Homo sapiens: one gene and its partners. The protein of the gene in region 1 interacts with the protein of each later gene in a biochemical or structural test. Each region holds a gene or a part of one and is shown on either strand. Other genes may lie near its edges.

Region 1 (6,969 bases):
GCACACACTCATCAGTGGGAGGTTGTACTGAAACACTTGCTACCACAAAAGGCCAAGGCTTATCCCTGCCACTGCCCCACCCAGCACAGACGAAGCCTGTGCTCATGCAAATGTGTGTTCCCAAACGTGCCCGCCCAAGGGCCACTGCCTGGTCTCACCTGTACTACACACACACACAGACATACACACACACACACACACACAAACATCTCTGCACCCCCATAGCCTCTGGCCCCTCTTCACACCCAAGCAGCAACCCCTACTCCACCGAAACCTCCCCTACCATCTTTTCAGCAGATCAAGCAAGAGTCTTACAGGCTATCAGTTAGGGACCCCAAGGAGGGACCCAGGAAAGAGGAGAGGAGCAATGAGAGGAGGCAGTCAGAGTGTCGAGGAGGGGAGAAGAGGCACAGACTGGCTGACTTACACAGCAAGAGAGAGAGAGAGAGAGACAGAAAGATGGAAAGGCTCAACGAGGAGGGTGGGGGCAGACGGGCAGAAAAACAAAGAGAGAGTGAAACAGAGACACTGAAAGAGAAACTGACAGGAAGAGGTCAGAGAGATAGTGACAGGCAAGAAGGAAGACAGATAAGGGGAGGGAGACAGACAGATAAGGACAGAGAGCTACAGAAAGCGAGATAGACAAGAAAGAAAGAAGAATGAGTAGGCATTCGGGGCTAGGGGACAGCTGACGCCCTGGGGCCTGCCTAGCTGCTGGATCCGACATACCAGGGAGTTCCTGAGAACTCGGCTGCCCTGTAGTGACATGTTAGTGTGCCCCCCCCACCCCAACAATACACATGCCAGGGGCCCCTGACTCACTGACGGTTCTCAGAACTCTCCCCCTCTACCCTCTAACTTTCCCTAACTTATAGGAACCAGGACCAGCCTAAGTGACCCCTCCCTTCCTCCTTTCCTCCCTTCCCAGCCTTGGCCCCACCAGGACAGCCAGGATCAGGTCCTAAGTTTCCCTGTGGACTTAGTAGAGGCCTATAAAGTAACCTCCACTGACTCCGAGGGAGGCCAAGTCCCTATTCTACCCACCCCCCAGCCCCTGCCCAGAGGGTTTCAAGCTGTAGGGACCCAGGGAGGGGGTGAGAATGCAGTGGGCTGGCAGGGTGTGTGGGAGCTGTCAGGCCAGCGTGCTCAAAGCTGCCTCAAAGCTGCCTCATTCGTTTGGATTCATAATCAATCTGTCTATTCGAGTCCATTATCTCCTCGTTAGCTCTGCGGGTGAGTGAGGAGGGAGGGGGCTGTGCAGGCAGTGGGGAGGGGGATGTCAGGCTGCAGCCCCACCCAGGGGGACATCTCAGCTCACCACCCTACATGCTTGCTAGTCCCCAGTTCTGGCCTGTCCACTCCCCCTACCACTCCCATCCCTACCCTGCTGGACCCACTTGGGGCTTGGAAAGAGTTGGGAAACACGAGCCCTGATGGGGAGCACTCAGGAGTCTGGACCCCAATCTGAAGGCCCAGGGTGATGAGAGAACTGGACTAGGACTGGCAACCTGTCTCTCATGCCCCCTCCCATCATGCAGAGACCTAGGCCTAGACCAAGACAAGGCCATCTCCTCTACTCCTGGTCTCCCTAGAGCTATTAGAGAGAGAGATTGAGTGCCTTCCCGTTAATTACCATGAGATACCCAAGGAACTCAGTGCCAATTACTGCAAGCTGCTCAAGTAACTTCCAGACAGTGATGATCCTCACCTCGGATACCTTCCAGCCCATCACAGCACAAGGCCAAGGTTCCTTGTCCACCCTCGAAACCCCAGGCCACAGGAGGAGGATTTTCTAGCAGTTCTCCCCTCTTCTAGATGTCTTGCTGGCCATGATAGCCATATGTAATATTCAAGTATTTTCCAGCCATCACCATATGATGCCTGAGTACCTCCAGGCCAGTCATTACCGCATACTCCCATAGGTTTCACCAGCTGCTAAAAAGTACTTGAGTATTTTGTAACCAATTCCTGCAGAATGTCAGAGTCCTGCAGAATGCTGAAGATTCCTCCCAGCTTCGTGTACCAAAGGGAGGAGGGTCTCTCAGCAAGGGCCCTGACTCCCCGCCCCAGGTAGAGAGACAAGGTTGGAGAGGGAGATGGGAGTGGGGAGAGAAAATCCAGGAGGGGGTCCCATTTCCCAGATCCAAATCAACGGGTTCTGGGGGAAGGAATGGTAAAAATGGAAAGAGGAGAGCTCAACCACTCAGCTCCTCACCGCCTCCCACCAATGCCAGCCAGCTCAATCCCCAATTCCAGAAGAAAAGCTAGGGTTGCCTCCTCATAACAAGAAAGTGGGCGGGGGCTGGCTTGCCCCTAGAAAAGGAAAAAGGCAGTAAGGGTGACAAACTGGGGACTTCTCTGCTGGTAACCATCCTTCTCTGTAGGACAGAGCAGGGGCTTCTGGCTGAGCTCCAGAAAGCGCCTTCTAGACGGCTAGGCTCTCTCAGACCTGGTCCACGGAGATTTCCCCCTTCGATCTCCCTGAAGCCGGCGGCCCAGCTGCCCTGAACACTAGGGGACATCCAGGCACTGACCATAAAGCTTGCTAGGGCAGCGGCGGCTGCGGAGGAACGCCCGGGCAGCGCCGAAGGCTGCGTGGTGCCAGCCTTCCGCCGTGCTCGTCCTGCCTGACCAGCAAACAAGCAGCGAGTCCGCGCCCTCGGGGCACTGCAATGCCTGCCTGTCCCCGCGCCCCCCCACCGCCCGCCGGACACTCACAGCTCAGTCAGGTTCTCTGCGCCGGGCAGGTGGTGGAGGCTATCCAGGGCCCCATCCCGGGTGCATCGCAGTCCCGAGGAGCCGTGGGGGCAGCAGGCATCGGGGCAGGGTGCGGCGCCCGCAGATGCCAGTATCAGCCAAGCCAGCAGGCTGCCCGGCCCCGCAGCCCAGCTGTGCCAGCCAAGCTGCCCGCGCCGTCCGCCTCGCAGCATCGCGGCGGCGCCCGCCTCGCTCAGGCGGGGCAGCCGTCTGTGCGCTCCCAGCTGCAGCTGCCAGGCCTCCCCCGACATGTGCGCTGGGCGGTGTTAAAGACCCAGCCGCCAGGAAAGGGCGGAGCCAGCGGCCCCCGCCCGGCCCCGCCTTGCCCCTCTTCTCCACCCGCTTCCTACTCTCTGACGCCCCCCCCTCTGCCCCCTCCCCTGTTAGGGGCCCCCAGCGTCAGCCTTCTCCCCGAGGATCCGCCTCAGCTCCGGCAGACGCTGAGGGGCCGCAGCAGAACGCCTCGGAGGTGTCTGCTGAGGCCGGAGGTGGGAAGCTGATACGTTATTTCTCTCAGCTTAAAGCAGCTGCATTTTTACATTTGGGGAGGAGGGAAGATGACTGCGTTGAGGAAAGGTTGCTGTCCAGGTCATCCTAGCCAGCCCCAGGCTCAGCGCTCCATCCTCGCGGCGCGCGTGCCTAGGGGAGTGAGCATGTCACTTGGAGTAAGTTAGGTAGAACATTCTCCGAACTCTAGGAAGAAAACGAAAAGGACTACCAAAGGATCAATCGCAGAACCTGGGGAGGAAGACACAGACGGGGCAGAGAAAGGGAAGGGGTCGCCTAATCCGGCCGAAGGGAGTCCGGAGAGCCAAGACCGCGCCTCCAAGAGAAGCCACAGGGTGGCGCGAGAAGCCCGCGCGCAAAGGCGCGAGCTCCCCGCCCGCGCTGGGTGCCTGGGGGTGCGATCTGCAGCCCCCAGTGAGCAACGCCTCAGGTCTCAGCTTCAGTCCCTGACCCCGGCCAGCCAGCGCCGGCCCCGGGGCAGGATAGGGCAAGGCAGGGCAGGGCTGACATCGATCGCCTCCCTGACAAGAGCATCGATTTATTCGTGAAGAAATTAATAGATCTTCTCTTAGCTCCTCGGACGCAGGAGCCGCCCGCGGGTGGAGCTGAGGACCGCGCACCTTGGAGGCCGAGCACCTGGAAAGCCCCGGGATCCCCAGCACCCAGGGCAGCAGAAGGCTGGTCCCAACCCCTCCCACCGCGCAAGCCTCCGTGGCTGCACTAACCCATCCGTCTCAAGCTGGGGAGAGCGAAGGGAAGAGGGGTGTCTCTTGGCGGGGAGACAGGCAAGGCCCCAGGGAGCGGGGGAAGGACGACCTCCTAGAGGCTCACGGTTCTCTCCGCCAAGGCCCCAGCACGGATGGCCCCCCAAGTCCCCGAGACAGGGACACACAGACCGACCGAGCAGCCTGAGCTCAAGAAGGTGACCAGACGGAGGCAGAGCCCTACACAGTGATCGCCTTCTTCCTCGGGATCTTGGTCAGAACCAAGGGACTAGGCGGTGACGGAGCCTGGCGCTAAGGGGTCTCCAAAGAGGACAAGGAGGCCTCCTAGGAGGCTGAGAGGGGCTCCCAGAGGCCAAGGGCTGTCCACGTTCTCCCGGGTCGAGGCTGCCAGAAGTTACCCCGCAGATGTCAAGGCACCGGGAAGCAGAATCTAGACACAGCGCTCCCCAGAAGCCCGGGCGCGCTGGCTGCCCCTCCGGCGGTGCAGCCCCACTTGGAAGAAGCCTGTGGTGGGGACAAAGGGTTGGCGGGAGCCGCTGCAGCCGCAGCGGGATTTGAGGAAGCTCAGTTCTTGGCCCACCCTCCCCCCGTATTTTGGCCTTATTTCCCCAACAGACCTGTCCTCCCCTCAGTTGTCAGGCTAAATATTTTGACTTGGCGGGAGGGGTGGAGAGAACGGAAAGGTCCCTGCGAACCAATCTGTTTAGGCGGGGGGCGGGGAGGGCGGGAGCTGGGCGCGGCCCCTGCGTGCCGGCCCTGGGAAGGACCGCAGCCAGCACTGTCAGCTGGCGCTGGGGGGCCGCGCGCCCGGAGGGATCCAGGGAGACTCTCCCTGCGGAGTCCCACGCGCCCCGGGACCCCCGCTGCCCTCCTTGGGAGCGGTCCCCAGCCTGCTGCTCCGCCCTCAGGGTTGGCTGGCCTCTCGGCCTGCCTTTTGCTCAGAACCCTGTGTCATTTTCTCCCTCTGGAGGCCCGAGACTCTCCCTGTCACTGTCTGCATCTCTGTCCCCATCTCTCAATCTCATGCTGAGTCTCTCTGTCTCCAACTGCCTGTCACTGTCTTTGTGTCTCTGTGACTCTCATTTCTTTTTTTCTGTCTCCTGCTGTCTCTGTGTGGGATTCCTTGTCTCTCTGCCCCTGCCCTCCCTCTCCTATCTGAACCCTGGTCTCTGTGTCCCTTAGGGCTTATCACACCGTTCTCCCCAGAGTCACCGGGAGGAGAGCCGGGACTGGACACAAGCCAGGGCTGGGACAATGGCAGTGCCTAGTCTGTGGCCCTGGGGAGCATGCCTGCCTGTGATCTTCCTCTCCTTGGGATTTGGCCTGGATACAGTAGAGGGTGAGTCCCCAGAACTGGCTCCCAGACCCCTACCTCCCTCCCAGCCAGCTGGGAGGCCAAAAAACTGAGCTTGCAGCCACAGCACCTCCACTTACTCTGCACTGGAACATGGGGGTTGGGGTTAGCGCTCAGGAGAACTGCCCAGCAGGAAAAGCAGTTAGTTCCCCACATAAAGGTGTTTTTCCCTCAGCTCCCTCAGAGATGAGAAGAGCTTCAAAACGTGGACAAGTAGATATCTTCCGTCCCTACTAGTGAAACTGTGATCCCAGTGAAGCTTGCCTGAAAACCCAAATGAGGCCGTGAGAGTGTTAGAAGTCATCTCTAGGGCCACTGAATGGGAAGAGGCAGGGGTGGGATAGGTAGCTGAGAACCAGGCACCATTAAGTAATGGAGGCAATGTTGCCGACAGGAAACTGCAGCTCTGAGAACTAAGGGTAAAGCTAGACTGGGTCCTGAGCTCCTGCCTCCAGGGCCCTGTCCTGTGTCCCCCCTCTTAGGGCCCAATCCCTACAGGGAGGAAGGCTGGTTTTGGGGGAAGACTGCTCTTCCTCAACACCCCAGGGCCTGTCCCCCAGGCTAGATACTGCCCATCAGTACGTTTTAGAGAGGAGGGGTGGGGGGACTATATAGACTAAATGACCCTCATGGAGGTGCTGGGGGATTGGTGGAAAGAGGAAAAAGAGCTGAGGGTGGAAGCTTCAAAAAGGGAAGGATTAGGAGGTATCCCCTTCCCCAGTCCCACCATTCCCCTCCAAACTGAAGCAGCTCAGGAATCCAGACTCTGTGCTTGCCCGAGAGGTCCTATGATGCCCCTCAGACTGGGGGCTCCCAGGGGCAGGGGAGTCTCCTCTTCCCATGGAGATGGGAGAGTGATGCAATGGGCTGGGTAGGAGGTCCCCTAAAGGGTGCTAGTCACAGATCCTCTGTCTGTAAGGCATAGCACCACTCCCCCGACCACCGAACCCCCTCCTCTTCTGCACAGCAGATGCCAGCTGGGAGTGTGGTTGTCAGGACAGGAGCACATCCTTGGAGGGGCTAGTATTTGCTCAGGGGACCCAGATGTTCTGTTCCCAGTGCAGCTCTGCACAGAGCCAGGTCCTGAGGGAAGGCAGGGGTTAAACTGTGAAGGTTTTAGATTTGTTTTTCCAAATGACTCCCATCAGGGGAGCCCTGGAGAGGCAGGGGCATGATGGGAAGTGGGCGCCTGAGAGAACCCCTATCTGCCTCGCAGAGCCTGATTGGCTTTTGCCTGGAAGGGATAGAAGTGTTTTCTCATTCTCTCTCCCTCTTTTTTGTGTGTGTATCTGCGTGGGCTCAGACATACACACACACACACACACACACACACACACACACACACACACACACACACATACACAGCTGCTGGGCAGAGCCAAGCTCAGGACCATTAATGACAACAGGGAGAAGATGTGAAGTAACCCCCAGGGAGCCAGCCTTGCCTGCCCACCTCTCTTAACAAACTATCAGGAATGGGGCCTGGATAGCGTGGCATGTGGCATGTGGTGTTTGTGATAACACCGGAGGGCTCGGTGGGAAGGGAAGTAGAGGCTGGAGACGTTAGCAGGAGCTGAATGTCAGGCTGAAACATTCAGACTTGAATCTTCTGCAGTGGGGAGCCAC
Region 2 (7,032 bases), on another chromosome or scaffold:
TTAATTAATTTTTAGATATACTTTTTTTTTTTTTTTTGAGACAGAGTGTTCTTCTGTTGCCCAGACTGGAGTGCAGTGGCGCAGTCTCGGTTCACTGCAACCCCCACCTCCCGATTCAAACAATTTTCCTGCCTCAGCCTCTCAAGTACCTGAGACTACAGGTATATGCTACCATGCCTGGCTAATTTTTGTATTTTTGGTAGAGACAGGGTTTCACCATGTTGGCCAGGCTGGTCTCGAACTCCTGACCTCAAGTGATCCACCCATCTCAGCCTCCGAAAGTGCTGGGATTACAGGTGTGAGCCACTGCGCCCAGCCTGTTATAAATACTTTCATCTTACACTGTTTTCCTTAATAACACTTATAAAATATTGATGTGTGATAATTTATTTAATGTTTCTCTCTCCCTCTTGGCTATAAAATCGGTAAAGTATATTCTATATCATTATACCTCATGCCCTGACCCACGTGCCTGATACATAGTGTTCATCAAATATTTGTTAAGCAAATACAGAAATCAAGTACTTCAGAGGTCCACCTAAAAGCTTTATCAAGAAAAGACAGAAGATGTGGAAATGAGAGCATAACAATTACAAGTTAATTTTGCACACATTCCATTCACATTCATCATATTCCTGAGAAAAAGTCTCTTCTGTTAAATTATTTTATTTGCGTATTAGTAGCAGGAAAGTGGAAGGACCAAGTGTTTGTTATGAATATAACACTTCTCCCTACTGGGAGAAGGTTCTTGAACAAATCAGAATCTCATATTCCTTATCTCTAAAATGGGGGTAATACTTCCTACTTCTGCAATAATGTTGTGATGATTACAGCTAAAGTATGAAAAAATCTAACCTGGTGCCTGGCACAGAGTGGGTATTCAGTTAAAGGCAGTTGCTATTTATTTAGGTTGACTCTTTTTCCCAAAGGAGAATACTTTCACTAAAGCATCTTTATTGACGGCCATGATTGTTTGTTCATATTACTCTCTTCATTGCCCCAACATGTCTCGCATCAGTTGAAGCCAGACATTTGAGTCCAGCCATGAGTTATAATAATGGGCTACAGACATATTTACTCAACTTTCAGAAAAGCCTTATCAAAATGCTTTTTGTTTGTGCTGTGCCTTTCTCCCTGCATTTATCTCCAGACTTCTCCTATCCCCTCCCCATTCATTTATCCTCTTAAACTTTGATACTATTGGCAAGGAGGCCAGAAGAAATAGAAGTCCTAAAGAAGAAGTAACATCAATTGCCACAGAATTCAGCAGAACAATGGGTTCAGCAATTCAAATCAGCTATCTGACTTAAAGATTCAGCTCTGGAGTAGATAACCATGATAGATTGAGAAGCAATTGTGTTCAACTGGTTCCTGCATGTCTCCAAATGCTATAGAATATTTCTGAGACAGCAAGGGGATGGGAGAATCAGCAGACTTAAATATCCTGCTCTGACTGATGTTTAATTATGCAAGATTCACCAAGTAAGTGACAGGGCCAGAATTCCAACACAAAAGAATCCCATTTTCTATACCCCTGCTCACCCTAAATGATTTATTTACAAGGTCTCTTCCAGCTCAAAGATTCTACTCCTATGTGATATATGAATTCCTAATTACCTATAAAAGAAATTATAGTTCCTTCTCCTTTTCTGTTCCTGGCGCAGAGCAGTCAATCACAGGCCACTACAGAAAATGTCTGTGGAGTGAGGGTGAATTTCACAGAGGTGCATGGTTGGCATGCTCGCCAGCACGGGGCACTGAGGGGAGGAGGGAGATACCATACAGAGATGCATCAGAAGGGTGCCCACTGGCAAGGGTACTGAGGAGGGGAGGACGGCGTTGCACAGGGATGCTGCATAGAGAATAGCAATATTCCCACTGGCATCCAAGGATGTGAAGAGCTGAAGTGGCAGAGGAGATGTCTGCGTGGTCAGGAAGTTAGTTACACTGAACACATAAGTCAATGAACAAATATATTAAGGATAATAAAAGTCAAATTTTTTCACTGTTAGAAAAGGTACTTATGGCTATAAAGGAACTCAGGTATTAGGTTTGAATTGGAAAAAATCAGTATGAATTCATGATTTTTAAATTTATGTATTTACAGATTGATATAGAAATAGCTATAGATCTTTGTGTATACTTATATATGTGTGTAGAGTACACATACACACACACACACACACACACACACACGCTTAACTGTTCAGAGATGGTCCAAGAGTATATCCCAGTAACAATGAGCACACCAAGTACCCAAATTGTAGCATGTAAAAACCATTTTATACTAAATAGGACCAGTGCTTCTAGGGAAAATGGCTGATTGTAGATAGCTGAGCCAAGCAAAATACAAGAGAAGCCTGGAACAACTTCTGCCAGAAAGTGTTCAAAGAATGATGGGGACTTGTTACGAAGACCTAGGAACCTCCTTGAAAGGGCTCCCACTGGACAAACTGGGACAGTATGAGCAATAAAATATTTAATGACAGTAACTGATTACAACCTGCTGAATAAAGTGGGATTTTACAAGTCTATGCTGATATAAATAAATGACAGGAAAAGGAAAGCTCTTCTTACATAGAATGCCAACTAACAGAGATGGAAATAAAACAAAATAGTGGTGTTTGGTTCAGATAGAATTCATCAATGGATGCTAAAACTGAGGATGAAGACTTGACGAGAAATAGGATATTGGCATAATCTTACGATATGTCCCCTGAAAATACTATCAATTATAAAGAGAAAAAAGGTGACATTACAGAGAAGAAACCTGGCAGACACCAAGGTGACCAAGTGATTAAGGTCACTGACAGTGTTGGGACAAGTCAGCATCATGTGTCCCCTGGTGTGATGCATGCGAAGAACACAGCATCATTTCTATGATTCCTGCCAAGAGAGCGTGACCTGAACATGGTCATCAAGAAACACTAAACAGACCCAAACAGACCCAAAATGAGAAACATCGTAGGATGTAAGGCCTGTCCTTGCTTTTTTTTTTTTTTTTTTTTTTTTTGTGAGACGGAGTCTCGCTCCGTCGCCGAGGCTGGAGTGCAGTGGCATGATCTTGACTCATTGCAAGCTCTGCCTCCCAGGTTCACGCCATTCTCCGGCCTCAGCCTCCCGAGTAGCTGGGACTACAGGCACCCACCACCACACCCGGCTAATTTTTTTTTTTTGTATTTTTAGTGGAGATGGGGTTTCACCATGTTAGCCAGGATAGTCTCAATCTCCCGACCTCGTGATCCACCCGTCTCGGCCTCCCAAAGTGCTGGGATTACAGGCGTGAGCCACCGCGCCCGGCCAAGGCCTGTCCTTCTTAAAACTGTCTAGGATAAGAAAAACTGTGCATGTGTCTTTATAGCAGCATGATTTATAGTCCTTTGGGTATATACCCAGTAATGGGATGGCTGGGTCAAATGGTATTTCTAGTTCTAGATCCCTGAGGAATCGCCACACTGACTTCCACAATGGTTGAACTAGTTTACAGTCCCACCAACAGTGTAAAAGTGTTCCTATTTCTCCACATCCTCTCCAGCACCTGTTGTTTCCTGACTTTTTAATGATTGCCATTCTAACTGGTGTGAGATGATATCTCATAGTGGTTTTGATTTGCATTTCTCTGATGGCCAGTGATGATGAGCATTTCTTCATGTGTTTTTTGGCTGCATAAATGTCTTCTTTTGAGAAGTGTCTGTTCATGTCCTTCGCCCACTTTTTGATGGGGTTGTTTGTTTTTTTCTTGTAAATTTGTTTGAGTTCATTGTAGATTCTGGATATTAGCCCTTTGTCAGATGAGTAGGTTGCGAAAATTTTCTCCCATGTTGTAGGTTGCCTGTTCACTCTGATGGTAGTTTCTTTTGCTGTGCAGAAGCTCTTTAGTTTAATTAGATCCCATTTGTCAATTTTGGCTTTTGTTGCCATTGCTTTTGGTGTTTTGGACATGAAGTCCTTGCCCACGCCTATGTCCTGAATGGTAATGCCTAGGTTTTCTTCTAGGGTTTTTATGGTTTTAGGTCTAACGTTTAAATCTTTAATCCATCTTGAATTGATTTTTGTATAAGGTGTAAGGAAGGGATCCAGTTTCAGCTTTCTACATATGGCTAGCCAGTTTTCCCAGCACCATTTATTAAATAGGGAATCCTTTCCCCATTGCTTGTTTTTCTCAGGTTTGTCAAAGATCAGATAGTTGTAGATATGTGGCATTATTTCTGAGGGCTCTGTTCTGTTCCATTGATCTATATCTCTGTTTTGGTACCAGTACCATGCTGTTTTGGTTACTGTAGCCTTGTAGTATAGTTTGAAGTCAGGTAGTGTGATGCCTCCAGCTTTGTTCTTTTGGCTTAGGATTGACTTGGCGATGCGGGCTCTTTTTTGGTTCCATATGAACTTTAAAGTAGTTTTTTCCAATTCTGTGAAGAAAGTCATTGCACACGTATGTTTATTGCGGCACTATTCACAATAGCAAAGACTTGGAACCAACCCAAATGTCCAACAATGATAGACTGGATTAAGAAAATGTGGCACATATACACCATGGAATACTATGCAGCCATAAAAAATGATGAGTTCATGTCCTTTGTAGGGACATGGATGAAATTGGAAACCATCATTCTCAGTAAACTATCGCAAGAACAAAAAACCAAACACCGCATATTCTCACTCATAGGTGGGAATTGAACAATGAGATCACTTGGACACAGGAAGGGGAATATCACACTCTGGGGACTGTGGTGGGGTCGGGGGAGGGGGGAGGGATAGCATTGGGAGATATACCTAATGCTAGATGACACGTTAGTGGGTGCAGCACACCAGCATGGCACATGTATACATATGTAACTAACCTGCGCAATGTGCACATGTACACTAAAACTTAGAGTATAATAAAAAAAAAAATTAAAAAAAAAAAAAAAAAAAGAAAAACTGAGGAAATGTTACAGATTAGAAGAGACTGCAAAGACATGCCACGTAAAAGCAATATATGTTCCCAGATAGGTTCTTAGACCAGAAAAGGAAAAAGAGAAATTATTAGTAACATTTATCAAAATTTGGATGGTATCTGTGGATTGAATGGCATTGTTGTATCAGTGTCCATTTCCTAGCTTGGAAGGGGGTATGGTTGTTATGCAGGAAAGTATTCTTGTTTTAGAAAAATACACACTAGAGTATTTAAAGATGATGGGGCATTGTGTCTGCAGCTTGCTCTCAAGTGGTTCAGAAAAAGATTAATGAAAATGGCAAAAAAAGGTGATGGAACAATTGCAGTGAAAAGGTTAACAGTTGCAGAATCTGTATGAGAAGAATACTGGAGCTCTTTGTGTTGTACTTTCAACTTTTCTGATGGTTTAAAATAATTTTAAAATAGGACGGGCGCGGTGCCTCACGCCTATAATCCCAGCACTTTGGAAGGCCGAGGCAGGCGGATCATCTGAGGTCAGGAGTTCGAGACCAGCCTGGCCAACATGGTAAAACCCCATCTCTACCAAAAATACAAAAATTAGCTGGGCGTGGTGGTGCGTGCCTATAATCCCAGCTACCCTGGAGGGTGATGCAGGAAAATCGCTGGAACCTGGTAGGCAGAGGGTGCAGTGAGCTGAGATCACGCCATTGCACTCCAGCCTGTGTGACAGAGCAAGACTCCGTCTCAAAAGTAAATACATAATTTAAAAATAAATTATTTTAAAAATACACTATATTTATTCACTTCTTTAGTCCCTGCTCCATGAAAAATACTTTACAATGATCCTGGAATTAAAGAGTTGCAAAAAAGCACTAATGGCAAAAACAATACATGAAAGATTGGGAGAAATTACTAATACAGCTGCTGCTTAACCTATGCTTCTCCTCCTTTGTGTGTAGTACATAAAGGTTTGGGAAGTTTGTTCCCAGACTGAGTAAGGGTCAGTTTCTGCTCAGCCTTAGTGGGTCCAGAAGTATCAGAATATGCCCTTCTTACCCTGCTACTTATGCACTGTTGTGGCTGCTGCCACCAGGGGCATCTATTATTCTGTATGTGCAAACTGCACTCTCCATACCGATAGCGGAGACTCTGAACTCTTTCCTCTTTATTTCCTTCCTTCTTTTCCTTGCTTCAGTCAGCCTTTCTTATAGGAAACAGAAATCATTCTAGATGCTTTAAGAAGAAAGAAGCTAATACAGGGGATTAGATGCTTACAAAATTTTTGGAAGAGCTGGAAGAGTAGGTGCTAGGCTGGACTTCTAGAGCAGGGGTCCCCAACCTTAGGAACCAGCCACACAGCAGGAGGTGAGTGGCAGGCCAGTGAGCAAAGCTTCATCTGTATTTACAGCCACTCCTCACCGATCACATTACCTCCGGAGCTCTGCTGCCTGTCAGATCAGCAGCGGCATTAGATTCTCATAAGAGCATGAACCCTATTGTGAACTGTCCATGCAAGCGATCTAGGTTGTGTACCCCTTATAAGAATCTAATGCCTGATGATTTGTCACTGTCTCCCTGTCTCCCATTACCGTCACCCACACTTGGGACCATCTAGTTGCAGGAAAACAAGCTCAGGGCTCCCACTAATTCTACATTACGGTGAGCTGTATAATTACTTCATTACATATCACAATGTAATCATAATAGAAGTAGAGTGCACCATACATGTAATGTGCTTGAATCATCCTGAAACCACTGGACCGCATCCCCGGTCCATGGAAAAACTATCTTCCATGAAACCGGTCCCTGGTGCCAAAACAGTTGGGGACTGCAGTTCTAGAAGATCAGAAACATGGCAGAACTGACCCATCCAGGAAGCTACTACCTCTCCCAGTCAGAAAGGTAGATGATCAGGAGTCATCACCAGAACTGATGACTTCAAGAATATAATCAATCTTGACGTCTGGAAGCCACTACCACCACTACTTCGGTGACTTCCTATCAATATGTACAAAGCAAGTTACCAGATACTGGAATACTTTCGCAGAAAATTTAGATGTTTACATGACTGTGCTTATCAGCAGAAAAAGCCAAAGAAACAAAACAATATGCTCCACCTCATTTCCACTCTGCAA
Region 3 (7,830 bases), on another chromosome or scaffold:
TGGCCATGGCACATAGAAAAGGATCAATAAATATTAGTTTAGTGGTTATGAGTGTGTCTCTGGGGACAGACTGCTTGGATTCTAATCCTGACCTCATCATTTGCTAGCTACCTGAACTAGCTTTGCTTGTGTCTCCATCCAGGAAAAAATAAATTAAAAAAATATATATATACCCTATAGGGTCGTTTGTCATCAAATCTATTTAAGTAATTGCTATTATTCATTTTTTGTCTTTCCAAGGCTGTTGACAAATAACATTAGCTACAACTCCATTAAAACGTTGGTGGTAATGATATTTATAATTTGATGTCTGCACTTGCCTTGCTTGTTTAGAAATGGTACAACGTGGCCAGGCATGGTGGCTTACACCTGTAATCCCAGCACTTTGGGAGGCTGAGGCGGGCATATCACCTGAAGTCAGAAGTTCTAGACCAGCCTGGCCCAACATGGTGAAACCCGGTCTCTACTAAAAATACAAAAATTAACCGGGCATGGTAGTGGGCACCTGTAATCCCAGCTACTCGGGAGACTGAGGCAGGAGAATCACTTGAACTTGAGAGGCGGAGGTTGCGGTGAGCTGAGATCGTGCCACTGCACTCCAGGCTGGGTGACAGAATGAAACTCTGTCTCAAAAAAAAAAAAAAAAAAGTACAGTGTAGTACCCCACAATTGCTATCCCAGAAAAACAATTTAAAATTACCTCAAAATACATTGAATAGTTATGAGCACATGTAAAATATATAAGGCAAAATTCTATACTTGTTTCTTTAAAACATCCATATGATGTTTTGGGACCAGTGGTCCCAAACTCTGTCTACCATAAAGATACCACATGTGGGTAAGGCCAACTCATTGCACTGTTTGATGAAGAGAGATGCTGCATCTAGCTAAAGTCACTGATGCCTTGTGGATGCATGCCAGATGTCTGCCAGAGTGTTTAAATTTTCAAGGGATGCCAGAAATTGGGATTTTTTTTTACATGACATTTCTCAATTTTAAAATTTTGACTCAATTTATTTCATGGTACAAAACTCTCTGGATCAAACAATACATTTGTCAAATCTTTGCCATAAATATTTACACTAATACATATGTACTAGTTACACTGTGCTGTTATTCAAAGCAAATGTTTTTGAGGCATGAATAAAAGATGAGGAAGACAAAATATAAAAAGGTCTTCAGAAACTCACAAGTCTAGTGGGGAGATAGGCAACAATGTCACAGAAAAGAGTGAAAAGTGTCACAGTAGAGTGTGGAAGTTAGAACTTAAGCTGTGTGGTTAGGATCAGATCTGCATTAAACCAACAAACAAAATCAAAGAACCCCATTATTTCAAAGCTTGGCAAAGGGTGGACACCCAAGTAGATGGCTCTTTTGTTTAACAAAACACCTTAATGGATTTTGGGGGTAGGAGCTATGCATAGACAGGGCCACAGCCTTGCACAGTTCCAGGGGGCATCATTTGTGTTTGTCACCTCTTGAGCATCATTCATGTTGTATTCTTTGTGAATAGCACCCCCTGGAATTGCACAACATGGTAATTGTGTCAATAAAGGTGGCCTGGAGTCTGGCCTGAGATGAGGATTGAGAGTTAAATCCTTCTACATAATAAAGTAAAAGGAATTTTAAGTCTTTCCTAGTGGGTAGAGGCAGGCGGGTAGAGGGATGCCTGGAATGGACAGAAGAAAAGGGTTAGGAGAAAAGACATCTCTAAGATGAGGATGGGCCAGCAATTTGGCAACAACCTGGAGCCGAATGAGCCTGGTGAGAGATTGCTTGTAATTTTTGCAAGAGATGCATACAATCCTCTGTCATCTTCTACCTCCAGGAGACACTGGTAAATGAAGTCAAACAACTTTTTCTTTGGCACTCTTCTTTATGAATCAGGAGATAATTGGGAAAGACTTCACCGTCCAGAATCACACAGCAACACTTGCCTAAACATACAATGCCTTAATAACTTGCCTTTTTACTGTTTTTCTTTAAAAAGCTGAAAGTGCTTACACTTTCATTTCCTCATTTGTTCTGACATTCCAGTGTGGGTGGGGCAGATTTATGATAACATTATTTATAGATGGAGAAATCGAAATAGAGATTAAATCGCTTAATCAATGTTGCATAGCTGGGGCAGTGGAGCCCACAGTGGAATTTGGTTCTCCAGGCTCCAGCCACGAAGTGGAAAGAACATGAGTTTTGGAATTAGAGGGATCTTTGCACAATCCTGATTCTGCCCCTTAACAAGAATGTGGCCTTAAGTCAATTACTTCACCTAAGTCTCAGTTATCCTCATCTCTAAAATTAAGACCATAAAACCTCATAGCAATGTAGTGAAGATTAATTTAGAAAACGCGTGTAAAGCCTTGGCATAGAGTAATTCCCAAATAATATTAGTTCCACCCCCAACCCAGTATTATCTGGTTACATTTCAGTACAAATTTAAAGTAATCAAAATGAATCCTCCATTATAGTAATTTTTTTTCTAGCCTCATCTTCTTTCACTGAGAGCAAAACATGAATAAAAATCCTTCAATAGGTCATTTAATTCAACGGCAAGAACTTTTGCTCCGGTAAGAGTTATCCCTGTTGGAAAAAATTAGAAAAAAAGAGGAATATGTGGAAGACAAGATATTAGTTCTTAATATCTTATGCAGTGGTTCTTAAACTTGACAGTATATCAGAATCTCCTGGAGGGCCTGTTAAAACACAGATTGCTGGGTCCCACCCCAGAGCTTCTGATTCATAAGATCTGGGGCGGGACCCAGTAATGTGCATCTGTAACAAGTTCACAGATGATGTTGAGAGGCTTAGTCCAGGGACTTCTAGGGGTGGGGCCCAGCAATCTGTTTTAACAAGCCCTTTAGGTGGTTCTGATGCACTCTCAAATTTGAGAACCACTGGGATAGTGGTGAAAAGCATCTGAGAATATGGTCTGCAAATTCAAACCCAGGCGGCTCCATTTACCAGTTAGATGACCAGATTAAATGACTAACCTCTAGCACCTCTGCATCCCACACAGAGCCTGATAATATCTGTGATTCAGGATTCCTCTCACTATCCCTTTAGGCCTTGAGTAAAAAGAGATGTCGGTGAGTCCTGCCAACCCACGCTGTTTTTTACTTCTTCACACTCTGAGGCACAAAAGGCTGCTTGAATTTGAGTATTACGGAAGTATTTGCCAACACTTCTGCGATCACAAAAATAAAGTAAGAAAGCCCTGTAAATAAAGCCAAGAGCAGTGGCATTGTTTGCATCTTAAATTTGTAATAATGGGTTTTCAACTTTTTTCCTTTCCCCTGCCTTTCATAGTAGAAACATTTAAAAATCTTCCCCGCCACCCCCCCCCCCCCCAGTTTCAAGAGATGTTAGTACATTTGTTTTGCAGATAGTATGCATTGCTAAGAGGCTTTTTTTTCTTTCCCTGCATCCCAGATACAGAATCTGCCTCAGATATCTGGTGCCTTTCTGATTTTGTGGCTGAGGAATCCCACGCCCTCCTCCTTTCCATCCCTTTTCCCTGTCTGGTATGTAACTCTGTGGGTCCTCATATTATCACTGCATGGAGCTTCACAAGCACCTGTATTTTTCCAGTTGTAAAAACCCCTACTCTTTCTTTTTTTTTTTTTTTTTTTTTTTGAGACGGAGTCTCGCTCTGTCGCCCAGGCCGGACTGCGGACTGCAGTGGCGCAATCTCGGCTCACTGCAAGCTCCGCTTCCCGGGTTCACGCCATTCTCCTGCCTCAGCCTCCCGAGTAGCTGGGACTACAGGCGCCCGCCACCGCGCCCGGCTAATTTTTTGTATTTTTAGTAGAGACGGGGTTTCACCTTGTTAGCCAGGATGGTCTCGATCTCCTGACCTCATGATCCACCCGCCTCGGCCTCCCAAAGTGCTGGGATTACAGGCGTGAGCCACCGCGCCCGGCCAACCCCTACTCTTTCTTATTTCCTTAACTAATCTTTTCTATTGCCTATTGCTGATGAGGTATAAGAATCGTTAACTTTTATCCAATGCCAGACATTCTGAAATGTTTATCATGCATTATCATTTTGGATTCCTACAATGCAGAGATGATTTTATAACTTGCCAGGGTGAAAAAATAAAAGTAAATAAAAGGAGACAAGCAAAAAGATTCCAGATCCCCACCCCAACCCCCCCAACCCCCCAACCCCAGCTCTCGCCTCTGTTGAAGTCACCAGTGATGACAGAATATAGGAATATAGTTTGAGCCCTGTTTTTAAATAATTTCAAAATCTTGGTATAGGTAGATGAGATTTATACACACGTGAATTAAAATCAACCAACATTTGTGAGATTGGGTTTGGTATCTTTGACCGTTTTTCTCCCCTGCAAGACGTAGATAATAGCACCAACCCCAAGGAGTTTGGGGATGATTAAATAAGTTAATGCACCCGAAGGGACTTAATACAGTGCCTACCACGTAGTAAGCGTTCAATAAATGTTAACTATTATCATTATTTTTTAAAGGAGGCAGATTGGAGCGTAGAGTACACTGAAGGGAGTCGGGAGGCCGGGTGTAGGCACTGGATTCTTGCACCTAATTCTCCGAGCCTCGGTTTCCTTATTTGTAAAATTAGCTGGCTGGAGTAAAACAACTCAAACAGCAGTTAAAGCAAAGGGTGCAGCAGTAGCCGGGGAATCGAGGAGGCGCGGGGCGGAAAGGGTTAGTTAGGAGCCCAGAGGCTGATCTGTGGGCGCCCGGCGAGAGAGGCCCCGCCCCGCCCTGGAGGCCCTGGCAGCTCCGGGCTGAGAGCAGTTCCGGTGCCAAAACCCTTCCCTCCCCCGCTCCCCCGGAAGTGCTTTTCCAAGATTCGGGCCGGAGAGAGGCCTTGTAGGCACAGCGGCTGAGACTCGATCTGCTCCAAGTAGGGGCTCCAGCGCGGGTCGGAGTCTGGGGGTTCGCGCCCGCCGACCCGCGCCCTGCTCCCTCTCAGCACCTGGGCGGACGGTGAGTGGCTAGGGAAACGGACTGGGACGGCCGCGGGCCCGCGTCGGAGCTGGCGTTCTCGTGCCCCCGCTGCCCGCTTCGGGATCCGGGCTGAGGGCTCGGCTGCCGGCGTCCGGGGAAGGGGATTGTCGACCGCCGCGGACTTCTCCGGGCCAGCGGGACGGGAAGAGCTGGCTGTGGGTCCATGGGGTGGGCGGGGCGGAGCCAGGGAGGGGGTTCCCAGAGCTGTTGTTGCTGTTGGGACTCGAGAGTGGGGATGGGCTGGGCCTCTGTTCGTCCGTCCGACCCCCCTCATGTGTGCTGCCCCAAACCTCGCCGCTCCCTAGTTTGGTATTCTGTGTCCGGCCTGGGGTAGTAGCTGGACACCAGACTCAATCTTGGGCTCCAGTTCCCGACTTTTCGCCTCCTCTGGGTCTGTCCTGGGGTCAGTAATTAACCCGGGTCCCAGGGGTGTCGTCTTTTCCCTCCAGGGTGGGGCGCTGCCTGTACATGCCAGGGATCTTTTGCAGGGCTTTTCATCCAGATTTGCTTCAGGGTTGTCCGGGATCGATTTGGACTGGGCTCGGAACCGGTCCTGGATACGTAGGTCGCTGTGGCACCAGCATGCTCTGTATCATCTTTACTCACTTGAAAGCTTGCTGAAGCTGTTGTTGAAGTAAACTTAAAGAAAAAACTTGCTTAAGGAAAATCAGTAGTTTAGACACCCCCTCCCCCGCCTTTTTTTGCAGACATACTAAAAAAAAAAAGATGCTTTTCTCTAATCTACACTCTTAATTCTTTTGGCTATCTGATGTCACAGTTGTATGATGAGTTCATTCAGAGGCTGTACGAATTGATTTTAAAGAGTTGGACAGTTATATCCTTTCTCCCAAAGTTTGTTTACCTTCATATTTGGAACTGTCATTTTTCTTAAGGAAAAATTGTTCTTGGATTTTCTTGAGAGATTCCTTACACTGTTAAAATTGTTGCTGCAATGCAGAGTTTCACACAGGTGGGCAGAGATGTTTTGTTTAAACTTATTCCATGAAGTGTTTACTTCGGATAAACTGAGGATTTCCTAGGGGAGAAAGTGATGTAGGTAGGTTTAGTGAACAGATTTTAGGTAGTAAACTTTACTGCTGAAAGGTTTGTAGGAAATATGGGTTTTCCACAATAAATGGTGATTTAAAAACTTTTTATAAGGGAATGCAGTTACTGCAGATTATTGCTATTAGCAGATGGCCACTGTTTTTGCAGCGTAAAGTATTCACAAATCACCTTCTTGAAACCAGTGACGCTATCTGCAACTCTCATCTTGTGTGTAGATTAGGGTTTATTCTGTAGTTTTTTGGGTACTTATGTCATTCTCTTTCCTCCCACCCCTGAAAGGGGAGGTGGTATCATGAATCAGGAAAAATAGACTGAAGTGACAAGTTCAGTGAGCTTTTCCTATGCAAAGGAAAATTTATTTCAAGGTTGTTGATTTTGAACAGGCAAAGGGTAGATGATTTTTAAAGTCCTTGGAAAAAATTGTGGAGAGATTAGCTGCACAACTTTTCTTTTTCCTCTTCCTTTCTTTTCTTTTTTCTTTCTTTTCGAGACAGCCTCATTCTGCTGCCCAGGCTGCAGCACAGTGGCCCCATCATAGCTCACTGCAGCCTCCAACTCCTGGACTCAAGCAGTCCTTCTGTCTCAGACTCCTGAGTGGCTAGGACTATAGGCACCAACCACCACACCTGGCTAATTTTTTTTTTTTTTTTTTTTGTAGAGCCGAGGTTTCACTATGTTGCCCAGGCTGGTCTTGAACTCCTGGGCTCAAGTGATCCTCCCATCTCGGCCTTCCAAAGTGCTGGGATTACAGTTGTGAGCCACCATCCCCAGCATATTTGCACAACTTTTAAATTTAGATAGAAACTGTAGCTTCTTCCACATGTGAAGTACTTAATTATTTAGAGCATAAGATTGGAATATTGGAATTGAGAGAATCTGGAAAAATAGTTAAGTTAGATGTAGTTACAGATTTGCAGGTATGACAATGTATTTTTAAGGGAAATACTTCAAGAGTTTTAAGAGCAGAGAAAGGTGATTGGGGAAAATCAGATACTGATTGTATTTTTATATTATACAAGTCAATTCAACAAACACTGAGCATTTGCTATGCATGTTATGCTATGTTATGCATAGCATGCTATTTGCTATGCTATGTTAGGTAACTATGTAAGGAGCAAATAAAGGTATAGCCATAACAGTTGAGTTTCATGTTTTGGTAATAATTTCTGAAATCATGAAGAGTTGAGTTGTATTCTTTAGGCATACTAACAATTTTTTTTGTAATTGGGACTTAACATTGGCGATGGGTGTTGAGTGCTTCATGAAAAGCGCTATACTAGGCATTTTAGGATATAAAGATTAAACTTTTGGTTTTTAGGAATTTGAAATCTAGAAGGGGATATAAGATTTGTGTAAACATTTACAACATAAACATTTGTAAATACTTATGGGTGGTTTGAGGTAAAGTTTGGAGTAAATTATACAAAAGAAGAAAGGGTTCATTTTTAGCTTAAGTAATGGAAATTTGTGGAGATAGCTCAGAAGCTACTGTTTATTGAGCATTTACTGAACAGACTTAATGCTAGTTGCTGTTTACAGCATTTTCTTAGCTTCACAGCAATATGTAAGTACCTTAATAATGAGGACAGTGAGGCTCAAATATGTTAAGTTACTTGCCTGGGCTATGTGGCTAGCATGTAACAGCCCCAATTTGAATCCAAATCTGTCTGGTGCCAAAGCCTGTGTGTTTCTACTGCATCATGTTGCTCCCCAATAAACTGGTAACCTGAGTTTAATGTTACAGAGAATAAGACTTTTCTAAGACAAAGATTTATGG
Region 4 (7,032 bases), on another chromosome or scaffold:
ATTGCACTCCAGCCTGGGTAACAAGAGTGAAAACTGAAGCTGTCTCAAAAAAAAAAAAAAAGAAAGAAAGAAAAAGGAAAATGTATATATCATTATAGGTCAGTGAACTTTCACAAACAGAACACACCCAGGTCAGGAAATGTGAGATAAACAGCACCTCTAGAGTTCCTTCATGTCCCCTTCCATTGACTTGTACATATATATATATATTTTGAAGTAAACATAAACTCTTGGGAGGCCGAGGTGGGTGGATCAGGGGGTCAAGTGATCGAGACCATCCTGGCCAACATAGTGAAACCCCCTCTCTACTAAAAATACAAAAAAATAGCCGGGCGTGGTGGCGGGCGCCTGTAGTCCCAGCTACTCAGGAGGCTGAGGCAGGAGAATGGCGTGAACCCAGGAGGCGGAGCTTGCAGTGAGCCGAGATCGTGCCACTGCACTCCAGCCTGGGCAACAGAGCAAGACTCTGTCTCAAAAAAAAAAAAAAAACATAAACTCAGGATTTTATTGTCTTCATAATAAAACAAAAGATGACACTTAGAACTGGATCACTTGGCCCTTTCTCTTCTTATCTCCTCCCAGTTCAAAATGCTTGCATCTTTTAATAGCCAGCATTCTCTTAGATCTGCAGTTGGGCTCAACGCACTCAAGCCTTAGCACAGTCTTCTTTGTGGTTTCAGCCTTTTTCCGGAAAATCGACTTAGTCTGCCCACCATAGCCACTCTGCTTCCTGTCATAACGCCGCTTTCCCTGGGCATACAGAGAATCCTTTCCCTTCTTGTACTGTGTCACTTTGTGGGGTTGATGCTTGCCACACTTCTTAGAGAAAGTCCAGTGAATTTTAGGAAAGTTGACCATTTGCGTGAGTGCTATCAGCACAGAAAGGACTTGTATATTTTTAATTCTTCTGTGTAAAGCTCACCTCATTCCTCATCTCTTAAATTTCTTCCTGATTTGGGCTCTTAACATTATTTTCAGTCTCTTTGCAAAAAAAAACCAAAAAACAAAAAGAACTGTCTTCACTGAAACTTGTCTCTTCCTCCTCTTATAATCTCATCTCTTGATCAATCTGCTTCCGTTAAACCAAAGTGTCGTGTGGCTACAAAGTCATAACTCGAGGGAATATGGGGGTTGGAATAGAAAATGCAGCTGTGGGGTAATAGCTAAAAACATTCCTTGGAGATTTTAAAGCTGAAGGAAACTTTTTGTGAGCTCACCCGTGGATTTGTGCAGAGGGAGTGAATAAGCAAGTGAAGACACAGTGATGGGAGCAGCTTGCTCATGCTCAGGAGTCTGACTAGGCCTTTAAAAATTATTTGTGGCCGGGCACGGTGGCTCATGCCTGTAATCCCAGCACTTTGGGAGGCCAAGGTGGGCAGATCACCTGAGGCCAGGAGTTCGAGACCAGCCTGGCCAACATGGTGAAACCCCGTCTCTATGAAAAATACAAAAATTAGCTGAGCATGGTGACAGGCGCCTGTAATCCTAGCTACTCAGGAGGCCAAGGCAGGCAAATCACCTGAGGTCAGAGGTTCAAGACCAGCCTGACCAATATGGTGAAACCCCATCTCTGCTAAAAATACAAAAATTAGCCAGGCGTGGTGGCGGGTGCCTGTAATCCCAGCTACTCGAGAGGCTGAGGCAGAGAATCACTTGAACCTGGGAGGCGGAGGTTGCAGTGAGCCGAGATTGTGCCACTGCACTCCAGCCTGGGCAACAGAGTGAGACTCTGTCTCAATAAATAATAATAATAATAATAATAATAATAATAATAATAATAATAGTAGTAGTAGTAGTAGTAGTAGTAGTAGTAATAGTAGGCCGGGCGCAGTGGCTCACGCCTATAATCCCAGCACTTTTGGAGGCCGAGGCAGGCGGATCACGAGGTCAGATCAAGACCGTCCTGGCTAACACAGTGAAACCCGTCTCTACTAAAAATATAAAAAATTAGCTGGGCGTGGTTGCAGACGCCTGTAGTCCCAGCTACTCGGGAGGCTGAGGCAGGAGAATGGCCTGAACCTAGGAGGCGGACCTTGCAGTGAGCCGAGATTGTGCCACTGCACTCCAGCCTGGGCGACAGAGCGAGACTCCATCTCAAAAAAAAAAAAAAAATAGTAACAGTAATAAAATAAAAATTATTTGTGAAGGATGTGAGCTTTCACCTAAAGCCACAGCAAATGAAACAATCTTTGTAGGTGCAGCCTCATCCTCAGATGCTTCTGGTCTCTGCCACCTCGAGCTCTTCAACATTCATTTGTGTTCTTTGCTGTTTTGTTTTCTTTTTCTTTCTTTTTTTTTTTTAACCCGACACTTCAGTAGCTGTTTTGTATACTTAAACATTTGAATAAAACTTAATTTTTAAGCATCTAATTACATCACTCCAGTTTCAGGGCTTGTGTGTGCAAGCTCCCAGTGCAGGTGGAGCAGTTGGGTTGAAAGGCCTGGTCTCTGGCTCAGGGTTGCAGCTGCATTGTTCATCCTGTGTTTTGCCTCCGGCAGAACCAAGCTTTTTCTGAAATTCTAGAGTGAAGAGGTTTAGAGGTATGTGCAGCAATACCTGGGCTATCTGATAACGTGATATTCTGGATACTAGAATTTTCCAGATAACCAAAATCGTAACCATTCATGTACTCAAATGTTACATTTTTGGCCAGCATGATGGCTCACGCCTATAATCCCAGCACTTTGAGAGGCCAAGGTAGGTGGATTGCTTGAGGCCAGGAATATGAGACCAGCCTAGCCAACATGGTGAAATCCCGTGTCTGCTAAAAGTACAAAAATCAGCTGGGTATAGTGGCGCATGCCTGTAATCCCAGCTACTTGGGAGGCCGAGGCACTTGAATCACTTGAACCCGGGAAGTGGAGGTTGCAGTGAGCCGAGATCATGCCACTCCACTGCAGCCTGGGTGACAGAGCAACAGAGCAAGACTCTCTCAAAAAAAAAAATTACATTTTTAAAAGCATTAATTCCATATTTTCCTTCTTTCTGGGGGAGAAAAACATACTAAACACCAAGTAATAATTTTTGTTCTGTAGACAGCCATAGTTCTAAGTTGATGTCAAATCTAGGAGTTGCCCTGGAGTTGTGTTTGTTGGGGGAGGGGACACTTTTTAGAGGGATTTGCCTCTGTCTTGGTAAAGGTGACAAGAAGAGAGTGTAGCTCTATGAACTCCTGGCAGGTAAATAGAGTTATCTTTTTCTGCAAAGTTATTGGTCACAAATCAAAAGTGTCCCTTTCTAATGATTACTTTGTTCTGTTTTGATGCACAAATAGGTTACAAGCAGCTCTTTGTCAGTCTGACTCTCTGTCTTCCAAGAACAAGTGTATACAGTAAAAGTAGACACACCTCACCATTTCAGGAGTTAAGACATTTTCAAAAACTCTTCATAGCTGGTATGGGTGCACGCACCTGTAGTCCCAGCTACTCCAGCCTGAGCAACGTAGACTCTGTCTCTGAAATAAAATAATAAATATTGTTTATAAGCCTGTGGGGTTTTTATTATTACTATAGGATGATGCTTTATAAGGTCATTATTAGACCACATTTTCCTTCTAGACCTTATTTTTGGTAGATAACAGAATCCTGGCCTTAAATAACTTTTAAAGTAGCTCCTTTTCTCAAAGGCTATTCAGAGTTTTCTGTGCTGCCAGTACAGGGGCAGGTGGTGGTGGCCCGGCAGGGTTCAAGCGCACTTTCCCTCCTCAAACTTGTCCTTGGTGTGTGCTTTATAATTGTCTATCAATACAGCACCATTGCTGGCTGCAGCACAATGCAGTGTTTTTAAAATGAAGACTTAAAAATTATGAGTGTACCTTGCATATATTGTTTTATCTCATTCCAGTCTTTGATGTGATTTTTTTACGAGAAACAAAATGATGACTAGAAGAAAGTTTTCATCAATACTCTATCAATATTTATGTGACTCTTGGAAACTTTGAATACACTGGGATTTACCACTAGCTAATTTTTTTTGAGAGTTTGCTACACATATTTATTAGCTCTTTCAGGATTTATCACCTTATCCTAAGCATTGAAACCCAGTGTCTGGCACCTGCAGTCAGAGTGTGGTAAGCATAGCAGATAAGCACCAGCATTGCAAAGCTCTGCAGGGCATACCCTCTGTTAAGAAAGCGTAGTCATTAATGCAGCCTGGCTAGTTGTCGATCATCTGTCATTCTTATCTACCCTTTCTATTGCATCTCACTTTGAATGGCAGTACACAGACAGCACTCACTTTAGAGCAATCCAGCTTCTGATTGGCTACGAGTACAGCATTGTTCAACATCTTGAATAAATCATTTTGTAAAGAATGTTACCAGTTTCCTCTCAGAACTTTGTTATGCAGTGTAGATTACCACTGTACTAGCCAACATTTTCCTGGGCCCACCATTTTGGGGTTGTATTCACATTTTTGTTTTATCTTTTACCAACTTTATGCCTTCTGCCCTTTGCCTTTTGTTGTAAGTCTAGAATTCATAGGGTGGCTTTCACGCTGTACCTGATTCTGTTCTGCTCCGTATATACTAGTCCCCCCTTACCTGCGGCCAGTTGCAATCCAACATATAAATAACATATTTTGGCCAATCGCAGTGGCTCACACCTGTAATCTCAACACTTAGGTAAGCTGAGGCAGGAGGATACTTGAGCGCAGGAGTTCAAGACCAGCCTGGGCAACATGGCAAGTGCCTATAGTCCCAGGTACTCAGGAGGCTGAAATGGGAGGATAGCTTGAACCCAGGAAGTTGAGATGCCATGAGCCGTGATGGTGTCACTGTACTCCAGACTGGGCAGCAGAGCAAGACCCTGACTCAAAAAAAAAAAAAAAAGATATTTTGAGAGATAACACATTCACATAAATTTTTATTACAGTATATTGTTATAACTTTTCTTTTACACTTTTTAAATATAAAGACAGGGTCTCACTATGTTGCCCAGGCTGGTCCTAAACTCCTGGGCTAAAGCAGTCTTCCCACCTTAGCCTTCCAAACTGCCAGGATTACAGGTTTGAGCCAGCACACCTGGCCTGTTAAAACTTTTCTATTTTACTACTAGTCATCATTAATCTCTTACTGTGCCTAATTTACAAATTAAACTTATAGGTAGGACTGGCATGGTGGCTCACACCTGTAATCTCAGCACTTTGGGAGGCTGAGGCAGGAGAATCCCTTGAGTCCAGGAGTTCAAGACTAGCCTGGGCAAAATAAATAAATCGGCTGGGCACGGTGGCTCGTGCCTGTAATCCCAGCACTTTGGGAGGCCGAGTCGGGTGGATCACAAGGTCAGGAGATCGAGACCATCCTGGCTAACATGGTGAAACCCCGTCTCTACTAAAAAATACAAAAAATTAGCCGGGCGTGGTGGCAGGCGCCTGTAGTCCCAGCCACTCGGGAGGCTGAGGCAAGAGAATGGCGTGAACCCGGGAGGCAGAGCTTGCAGTGAGCCGAGATCGCGCCACTGCACTCCAGCCTGGGCGACAGAGCGAGACTCTGTCTCAAAAAAAAATAAATAAATAAATCTAAAAAAAAATAAAACGTATAGGTATGTGTATAGTGTAGGAAAAAGCATAGCATATCTAGAGTCCTGTACTATCCACGGTTTCAGGCACCCACTGGAGGTCTTGAAACGTATCCATCATGATAAGGAGGACTACTGTATTACTCTACACATTACAGCGTCATGGCCTAGCCTATGCATGGCCTGGTACATGCAATTCAAGAGGCAGCATTGGAGAGAACGGTCATTGGAAATATGAAAGTCTGGGCATGATGTTAGCTCTGTGGGGTCACTACCTCGTAACCTGGGTTGACCATTGATCTTGTTTTTTTACATCTGTAGAATGCAGTGGTTCAGTTCCAGGATTTCCAAGGCATCTGCCTGAATTCTGCTGGTTGATATGCTTTCAGCACTATCTAACTTTAATACAATGTGGCATTTGGGTTATTGAACTGAGTAGGATTTGCCATGCTTTTTCCTGAAAATAGTTTTCCCATACGAGGGCATATGGTTGTCCTCACAAGCAGCAGTGTTCTGGAGCTGTTTGGTGGGTGACCCGTACTTGCGGTAACCCAGAGAAGCCATGAGGGGATCCAGGACTGTATCACTGTAGATTCTGGAGGTCGGTTGGAAGATCTCTAGAGGAGTCTAATAAAAGGTTCTGTTGCTGCTTAGTTCTGCTGTGACACCTCTCTCTCCCAGAAAGTAGACTTTGTCTTCGTCAGGCTCCCTTATTCTCCTATGTGTTTGCCATTTTCCAGAACCTCTTCTCCAGGTTTCTCTCTTAGAAAAACCAAACCAAACAAAAAAACTGGCCGGGCACAGTGGCTCACACCTATAATCCCAGCAATTTGAGAGGCCAAGGTGGGCAGATCACCTGAGGCCAGGAGTTCAAGACCAGCCTGGCCAACATGGTGAAACCCCATCTCTACTAAAAATACAAAAATTAGCTGGGCAACGTGGCATGCGCCTGTAATCCCAGCTACTCGGGAGGCTGTGGCAGGAGAATCGCCTGAACCCAGGAGGTGGAGGTTGCAGTGAGCCAAGATCGCGCCACTGCACTTCAGCCTGGGCGACAGAGCAAGACTCCGTCTTAAAAAAAAAAAACAACTAATACTTGCCATTCTTCTTTCTCCTTCCTTACTGAGGGTTTCATTCCAGATGTTTGGGAGCCTGAATTTTCATTTTCAGAGATAATTTCTGTTTCATTTTAACAGAGTTTAACATAATGCTGGTTGTTTGAAGTTAAAAGGAGTCTTATATCCGTATAACTGATAATACTTCGAGTGAAACCGTTCACAGACCTAAAAGATAGCATAATTGTCTTGTAACTATCTTTTTAAAGGGAAAAGGAAATGATTGGGTTTTTTTGTTGTCTTATTTCTTTTCAGGTTTTGAACGAAGAATGTGATCAGAACTGGTACAAGGCAGAGCTTAATGGAAAAGACGGCTTCATTCCCAAGAACTACATAGAAATGAAACCACATCCGTAAGTTAAGCTCCATTAGTCTTGGAAGGGTTGGACCCACCTCCTTG

Evidence for each region.
Region 2: of the proteins of NTRK1 (region 1) and NEDD4, one has a biochemical effect on the other in vitro, tested with the Homo sapiens proteins (3 studies listed by BioGRID, with this or other methods).
Region 3: the proteins of NTRK1 (region 1) and FRS2 form a complex in vitro, tested with the Homo sapiens proteins (one study listed by BioGRID).
Region 4: the proteins of NTRK1 (region 1) and GRB2 form a complex in vitro, tested with the Homo sapiens proteins (one study listed by BioGRID).

Annotation. Positions count from the first base shown.
Region 1 is NC_000001.11:156,856,896-156,863,864, reverse strand, and holds the start of NTRK1 (high affinity nerve growth factor receptor isoform 2 precursor), read right to left. Parts: upstream 3,001-6,969; 5' UTR 2,931-3,000; coding exon 2,719-2,930; intron 1-2,718. Other genes in the region: INSRR (insulin receptor-related protein precursor), read left to right, coding at 5,244-5,328. UniProt on the Homo sapiens protein: Receptor tyrosine kinase involved in the development and the maturation of the central and peripheral nervous systems through regulation of proliferation, differentiation and survival of sympathetic and nervous neurons.
Region 2 is NC_000015.10:55,983,593-55,990,624, forward strand, and holds part of NEDD4 (E3 ubiquitin-protein ligase NEDD4), read right to left. Parts: intron 1-7,032. UniProt on the Homo sapiens protein: E3 ubiquitin-protein ligase which accepts ubiquitin from an E2 ubiquitin-conjugating enzyme in the form of a thioester and then directly transfers the ubiquitin to targeted substrates. Specifically ubiquitinates 'Lys-63' in target proteins.
Region 3 is NC_000012.12:69,465,567-69,473,396, forward strand, and holds the start of FRS2 (fibroblast growth factor receptor substrate 2), read left to right. Parts: upstream 1-4,821; 5' UTR 4,822-4,964; intron 4,965-5,122; exon of another isoform or gene 5,123-5,140; intron 5,141-5,226; exon of another isoform or gene 5,227-7,830. UniProt on the Homo sapiens protein: Adapter protein that links activated FGR and NGF receptors to downstream signaling pathways.
Region 4 is NC_000017.11:75,332,653-75,339,684, reverse strand, and holds part of GRB2 (growth factor receptor-bound protein 2), read left to right. Parts: intron 1-472; exon of another isoform or gene 473-885; intron 886-6,887; coding exon 6,888-6,985; intron 6,986-7,032. UniProt on the Homo sapiens protein: Non-enzymatic adapter protein that plays a pivotal role in precisely regulated signaling cascades from cell surface receptors to cellular responses, including signaling transduction and gene expression.